2 separate regions of the Homo sapiens genome follow, and region 1 is linked to region 2. Evidence: fine-mapped expression QTL. Tissue or cell type: subcutaneous fat. Region 2 holds a variant in brackets; the other region holds the start of a gene. All regions are shown on one strand. Distances are between the middles of the regions.

Evidence for each region. PIP is the estimated chance that this variant, and not a neighbour inherited with it, causes the effect. A credible set is the group of variants that fine-mapping cannot tell apart.
Region 1: it holds the start of ZNF513, and the variant in region 2 is the best candidate, but not a certain one, in a credible set for the expression of ZNF513 in subcutaneous fat (GTEx, PIP 0.79).

What each region holds. Positions count from the first base shown.
Region 1 is chr2:27,379,190-27,381,945 of GRCh38, forward strand. ZNF513 (zinc finger protein 513) reads right to left here and starts at 1,545. Exons shown (of 4, transcript NM_144631.6): 1 at 1,283-1,545; 2 at 904-1,059. The coding sequence starts at 1,337. PPM1G (protein phosphatase, Mg2+/Mn2+ dependent 1G) reads right to left here. Exons shown (of 10, transcript NM_177983.3): 10 at 2,010-2,616. The coding sequence ends at 2,410. RefSeq lists an enhancer at 1-157 and a silencer at 1,298-1,517.
Region 2 is chr2:28,343,466-28,346,221 of GRCh38, forward strand. No RefSeq gene overlaps it. Among named protein-coding and RNA genes, the nearest start is that of BABAM2-AS2, 34 kb to the left of the region's middle. The variant C/G (reference allele first, on the strand shown) is at 1,334.

The DNA of each region.
Region 1 (2,756 bases), 960 kb before region 2:
AATCAAGGTCTCCCCTGCAGTAATTCCAGAAAATTCAACATGAATTGTCTACCTCTTACACTGGACTAATCTAGTGATGGTAGAATTGACCTGTATCTAGTTTCCCTCAATGGTCAAGGATCAAGGGCTCACAGTGGATCACAGACTGAAATGAATCCATAATGAAATTAATTCTTGAGACAAGAAAGTAAAAATACGAAAGGGAGAGAGCCCCCAAGACCTTTTTCTAAGCTCTATTGCTAAGGCCCCTTTTAGTAAGGAGCTGATATAAAATAAAACCTATCTCTGAGGCAAAATTTGGAGGGAAGTGGAGACAATGAAAGTAATGCATGTAATACCACTTGCCTGCCTAAAGAACAGATATTTACATGGATCCCCTCAATGACTTTCAAAAAACATCTTGCATAAGTGGATGGGTAGTGCAGCAAATTAGGGTAGGGTGATGCTAAGATCACAGGGAAGAGGGACATGGAAGGATAAAGACAGAAACTAAAACCTCTCAATACAAAAGGAGCTTACGCTGCAGGTGAAAGGGAGTTAGATTAGACCTAAATACTGGGTTGAATGATTTACAGAGAGTTTGCTTCCCTGAACCTCTCTTAAAAGTAAATACACATAAGGAATGGGCTAGGGAGAGAGACAGGGCATTTACTTTTAATCAGTTGCTCCATGTGATTCACCCACCCTCCTATTCCTATCACCTTTGACCAGGCCTCAGAACTTCACCTCAACAAAGTGATGGAAGTGATTGGACCATTAAACAAATGAAGTCATCTAGCTCAAATGTAAACTAAACCAGCCCTCGGTTGTGGCAGGAAATGGTGTTCTGTTCACCTAACCTGCCTCCTGAAGGGCTGGGGTCTCCAGCGGCCGCTAATCCTTAACCAAGACCCGAAAACCCACCTTCCGAGTCTCTCTCGAAGCCCATGAGCTGGTCACTGTTGCCGTCGCCTTCCTCCTCTTCCTCTTCCTCCTCAAACTCCAGATCCTGGCCTAGTAGCAAATCACTCTCCAATACCAGGGCCCCGGGTCCTTCGTCGAGGGAGTCTTCAGTATCCACTGAAGAGGGGAGGGGGCTTGTGGATTCTCCCTCAGGAACCAGCCCTCGTGGACCACACTTCCCGTACTCGCTGACCCACTCTGATTCCCTTAGTGCCTCGGTGGGAAGCTAGGAGTCTGGATCGCCCACTTCATCCCTCAGGAGTCCCCCTCCACCCTGACCTGAGCCCACTCCACTGACCCCACCCCCGCTCCTCTCCCCTCAAGGCCCCTGACCCCTGACCTTTGACCCCCTCGCATTTCACGGGCTGCGGGTGGCTTTGCTTCCTTCGGGGCATCGTGACCGGCTCCAGCCCGACGCGCCTCCGGCCTGCGGCCGCCCGACCCCGCCCCTCCTATCTCGGCCCGCCTGTCTGCCCTTCCTCTCAGGGCCCGCGGGCCGCCCCCATGCAGCGGCGCGGGCCCTGGGCAGCCCCCGGCCCTGGCCCCGGCGCCCAGCTCAGGCCGCTCCCGCCGCCGCCGCCGCTTCCATTCATGGAGCCCCCTACCCCCCTACGGAGACCAGCTGGTACCTCCGTACTCGCTTCCGCTTCCGCCGCCGCAGAGACGCACGGGACGCGTAGTCCGTGGGAAGCGGCCGCGGCGGGAGCCTCAATGGCGTGACCGGGAAGTGATTGTGACGAGGCGGGGAGCAAGCCAATCAGCGGCAGCGGGGAGCCGGCCAGGGAGCAGCGCAGGAGGCGTCCTGCCCGACTCCAGGCTTCAGGCCAGCCAGACCGGTCCCAACCTGTCCCTGGGGGAACTAGATCATTTCTGGCTGCAGGAGGGGGCGAGGGGCAGCCGCGACGCCCGCCAGGCCGGCCTACCAGCAGCTCGCTCTGGGCTCTCCTATACACGCGCAGGACACACACGAGCACACGCACACACTCACATGGGGGCTCGCCACATGCTACAGATGGGACCAAGTCGGGGGCCACGGCAGCAGAAAAAAAAGGACACGATGCGTACGATTAGGTTTTGGCCTTTAGTCTGAAAAAGTGTTGATTGAAAGTGTACAACAGAGAGCGGGTGCAAGCGGCCGAGGGCCATGGAGCCGCCAATAAAAAAGAATGTCCTTAAATAAAGTTCACAGAGTAAAAACCAGAACCGCCAGTCCTTCCCTCCAACACAACAGAGCACAGGCACAGAACCGGTGATGAGCCCGAGGAGCAGAGGCGGCTGGGAAGGACAGCAGAGGCTCCCGGCTGCAGTGTGGAGGGAGAGCCCTCTTTGGAATGGGCGGAGTGAAGCCACCCAGCTCCCCCTGCACACCTCATACCCACTGCTAAGGCTAAAGGAAAAAGACAAAACTCAGTCTCAGGTCCGGAGGGCTCAGAAAACAGTCTAGGTGGGCAGGGGTCTGGATGACTGCTAGTCTCGCTTGGCCTTCTTCTTCTTGTCGCTGTTGCCATTTTCTTCAGCCCCCTCAGTAGAGAGCACCTCCTCTAGTTTTCGCTTGCCACTCTCTGGCTGGAGCTCTGCTGTGTTTCGGGGCTTGAAGCAAATGATGATGCAGGTCATGTTGTCACACCCTGTACCATCCCCAGAAGTGTCTGGTGCCAGGCACTGATCCAGCAGCTAAGAAAGGGATGGGGGTAGCTCAGCCACAGGGTTTGAACACCTTGCCAGGAATCTACAGTCCCACAAGAGGGCTGGCTTGCTGAGTCAGGGTGGTAGGAGAGGAATGGGCAAGAGGTATCACACAACGGCCCACCTGC
Region 2 (2,756 bases):
CCTGATAAGACATTTACACACTGCTTTTTGCCATTTTCCCTGTGAGGAGAGGGGCTTGGAGTAGCTGGGTCTGGCCAGATCACACGAAGTGGGTGTCAAACCCTGGTCAGCTGGGTCCAAGGAATTCTGTGGGGTCACATGCAACAAACTAAAAAAGACTTGGAAGTGGTCTTCGTATATGTGGATGAGTATATCTATATGGCTACACACATATATATAAATAACTTATTTTCAGATGGCTGAGCCAGAGCCAGCCCACAGCTGGAAAAAATTAAAAAATAAAAAATAAATAAACCTGACTTCAGAATTTGTGCCATAGTCTCTGGTTAAAGTCCAAAACACACTTGGTTGAAATAACAGCCTAATATTTGAGGAAAACAAGGTGAAACAGTTGTTACAATTATTAAGGAAAATTACCGAGGTATTACCAAAGACAGCAGGGTCCGTGAACTAATTCCAGGTTGAATAGGAAGCAGTTAACTCTAAGAGGCCTAAAGAAGTGTCTTCCTTCTACAGCGTTCTTGGATTTACTCTGTCACTATTCTCTGATCCCTTTGGAGGAACCACACTTCCCAAGTCTAAGAGGTCGTGCTTGGGGTCATAATAAATCATGGGTCATCATGGCCAGAAAAGTAGCCCCACAAGCAACCCAGGGATGGCCAGAATGAGCCTCCCTGCCCCGGGCCAGCCGCCTCTGCAACACGTTGGGATGAGCCAGCCAAATGGCTTGTGGAGGGTGTGGCATACACTCATCTTCCCCCAAAACAGCCCACCACCCCCTTCTTAAAGTCCCATGGAGCAGGTCCCTCCACAGAAGGCTCCTCGTTCCAGAGAGCCTCTTTGAAACGTGCCCTTTGAGTGAGCCTAGGAGCCAGGCAAGAAAGTGAAAATCAGTCCCTTTCAACTCCATGATCTCGCTTTTGCTCCAAAACGGAACGCTGCAGCTCCCGGTGACTTTTGGCTGTCTGCGCAGGTGCCAGTAGAGCAGTACGTAGAAGGGTGCTGGGTGCCATCTGGAAATAAGGTGGTGGGTGGGTGTTAAAGGTGACAGCTGCCCTCTCCCTTCTCAAGCACCATGCGTGACAGTCCAGGCCCTGTTCCAGGTGGTTCCCACACGGCGCCTTCTCGATCCTCTGACCCTTCAGAGAACTAGGAGAGCCCACCCCTGCAGGCAGCCGAAGCAATGTATCAGGGCAAATCCTGGGGAGGCCAAAAATCATTTGAGTAAGGCGAGGTCTGCCGAATAAGAGGGCCGCTTACCCAGGGTCAGCTCTGAAAGTGTCAATGAGGGACGTAAGTTCAAGTAGGTGTAGGGAAGGATTCGACTGGGACT[C/G]ATTTCACAGCCCAGCTGGGGACTGATGTCACGCCCGAGGACAGGAGGTTTGGGGCAAGGGTCAGCCTCACACTGCCAGGTTGCCCTAGGGGAGATTCCACAAGGGCGCATTCCCTCGCCACGCACATGCGCAGGCACGCACATCCGTGTGCACGCACTCACCCACAACCAGGGCTTCAGATGAGCTGATCCCCCGCTATCCCACTCCAGCACCCGCTCCTGGGACTCCAGCCCACACCAGGTGGGAGGAGGACTCCTCATCCTGACTCCACGCTGGTGGCTCTCGGCGTGCGTGGGCTGCAGGTTGTACAACCCAGACGGCTGCCTCTGCCTGTCTCTCCCGCCTTTCTACCCGCACCGACACCCAGGCGGCCCCCTGAGGCACCTCCCCTTCCTCGCCGGCTCCTGCCCAAGCTGCCCAGGCCCAGGGGCCCCCTCAGCCTCGCCCACTCCAACTGCCAGCTGTCAGCAGCCAGCGGCCACCAGGGCTAATCCCCTTCACAAAACTAACTCCAGCCTGGAGCCCCGCTTCAGCGAAACCAAGCCCTGGCAAGGCGAATGGGCTCGTTGGCTGAGTTGAGGCCCATGGGCTCTGGAACCAGCCGGCCTGAGTCAAACCTGGCTCCACCACTTCCTAGGTGCGTGAACTTGAACAAGCCAGTTGATCTCAGTTTCCTCCTCTGCAAAATGGAACTTCACCACGCGGTGCTGGCAGGAGGACTCCATGATGAGGGCACTGAGTTATAAGCATTGTAACACTTACACCAGTGCCTGGCACTCAGTGGTGCTCAGAAAAGCCTATCTTTATTATTATTGCCTTTTAGGTTTGGCACAAGTTGCTCCTGGTCCCTCTTCTCACTCCTTCCTTTCCATTCCATATCCCTGTCCTTAAGCGTTTAACTGACCGAAAACAACAAAATCTTTTTTGGCCTCTCCCATACGATAGTCCAGTCCTCTTGCTGGAGCCACTCCCACTTCGAGTGTCTCTGCCAGCTGTCCACCTCTATGAGCTCCCAGGCCCTCTGCCCAAGGCTATCCACCTGCCGCCTCCCCCTCCTCTCTTCCCACAGCTCCCCTGTAAGCCTGTGCTAAGCAGCGCGACCTGGGGGCCCTGACTCGTCACTTCTGTCAAGCTCCTAAATTCCCTTGTTTCCAGAGGTTTTGTCTATTAAGTTACTTTTTTAAATTTTTTTTTTTTTTTTTTTGAGACAGGGTCTCAGTCTGTCACCCAGGCTGGAGTGCAGTGGCACAATCTCAGTTCACAGCAGCCTCCATCTCCTGAGCTCGAATGATCCTCCCACCGCAACCTCCCAAGTAGCTGGGACTACAGGTGCGTACCACCATGCCTGGCTAATTTTTGTATTTTTATATAGACGGAGGTCTTGTCATGTTACCCAGGCTAGCCTTAAACTCCTCAGCTATG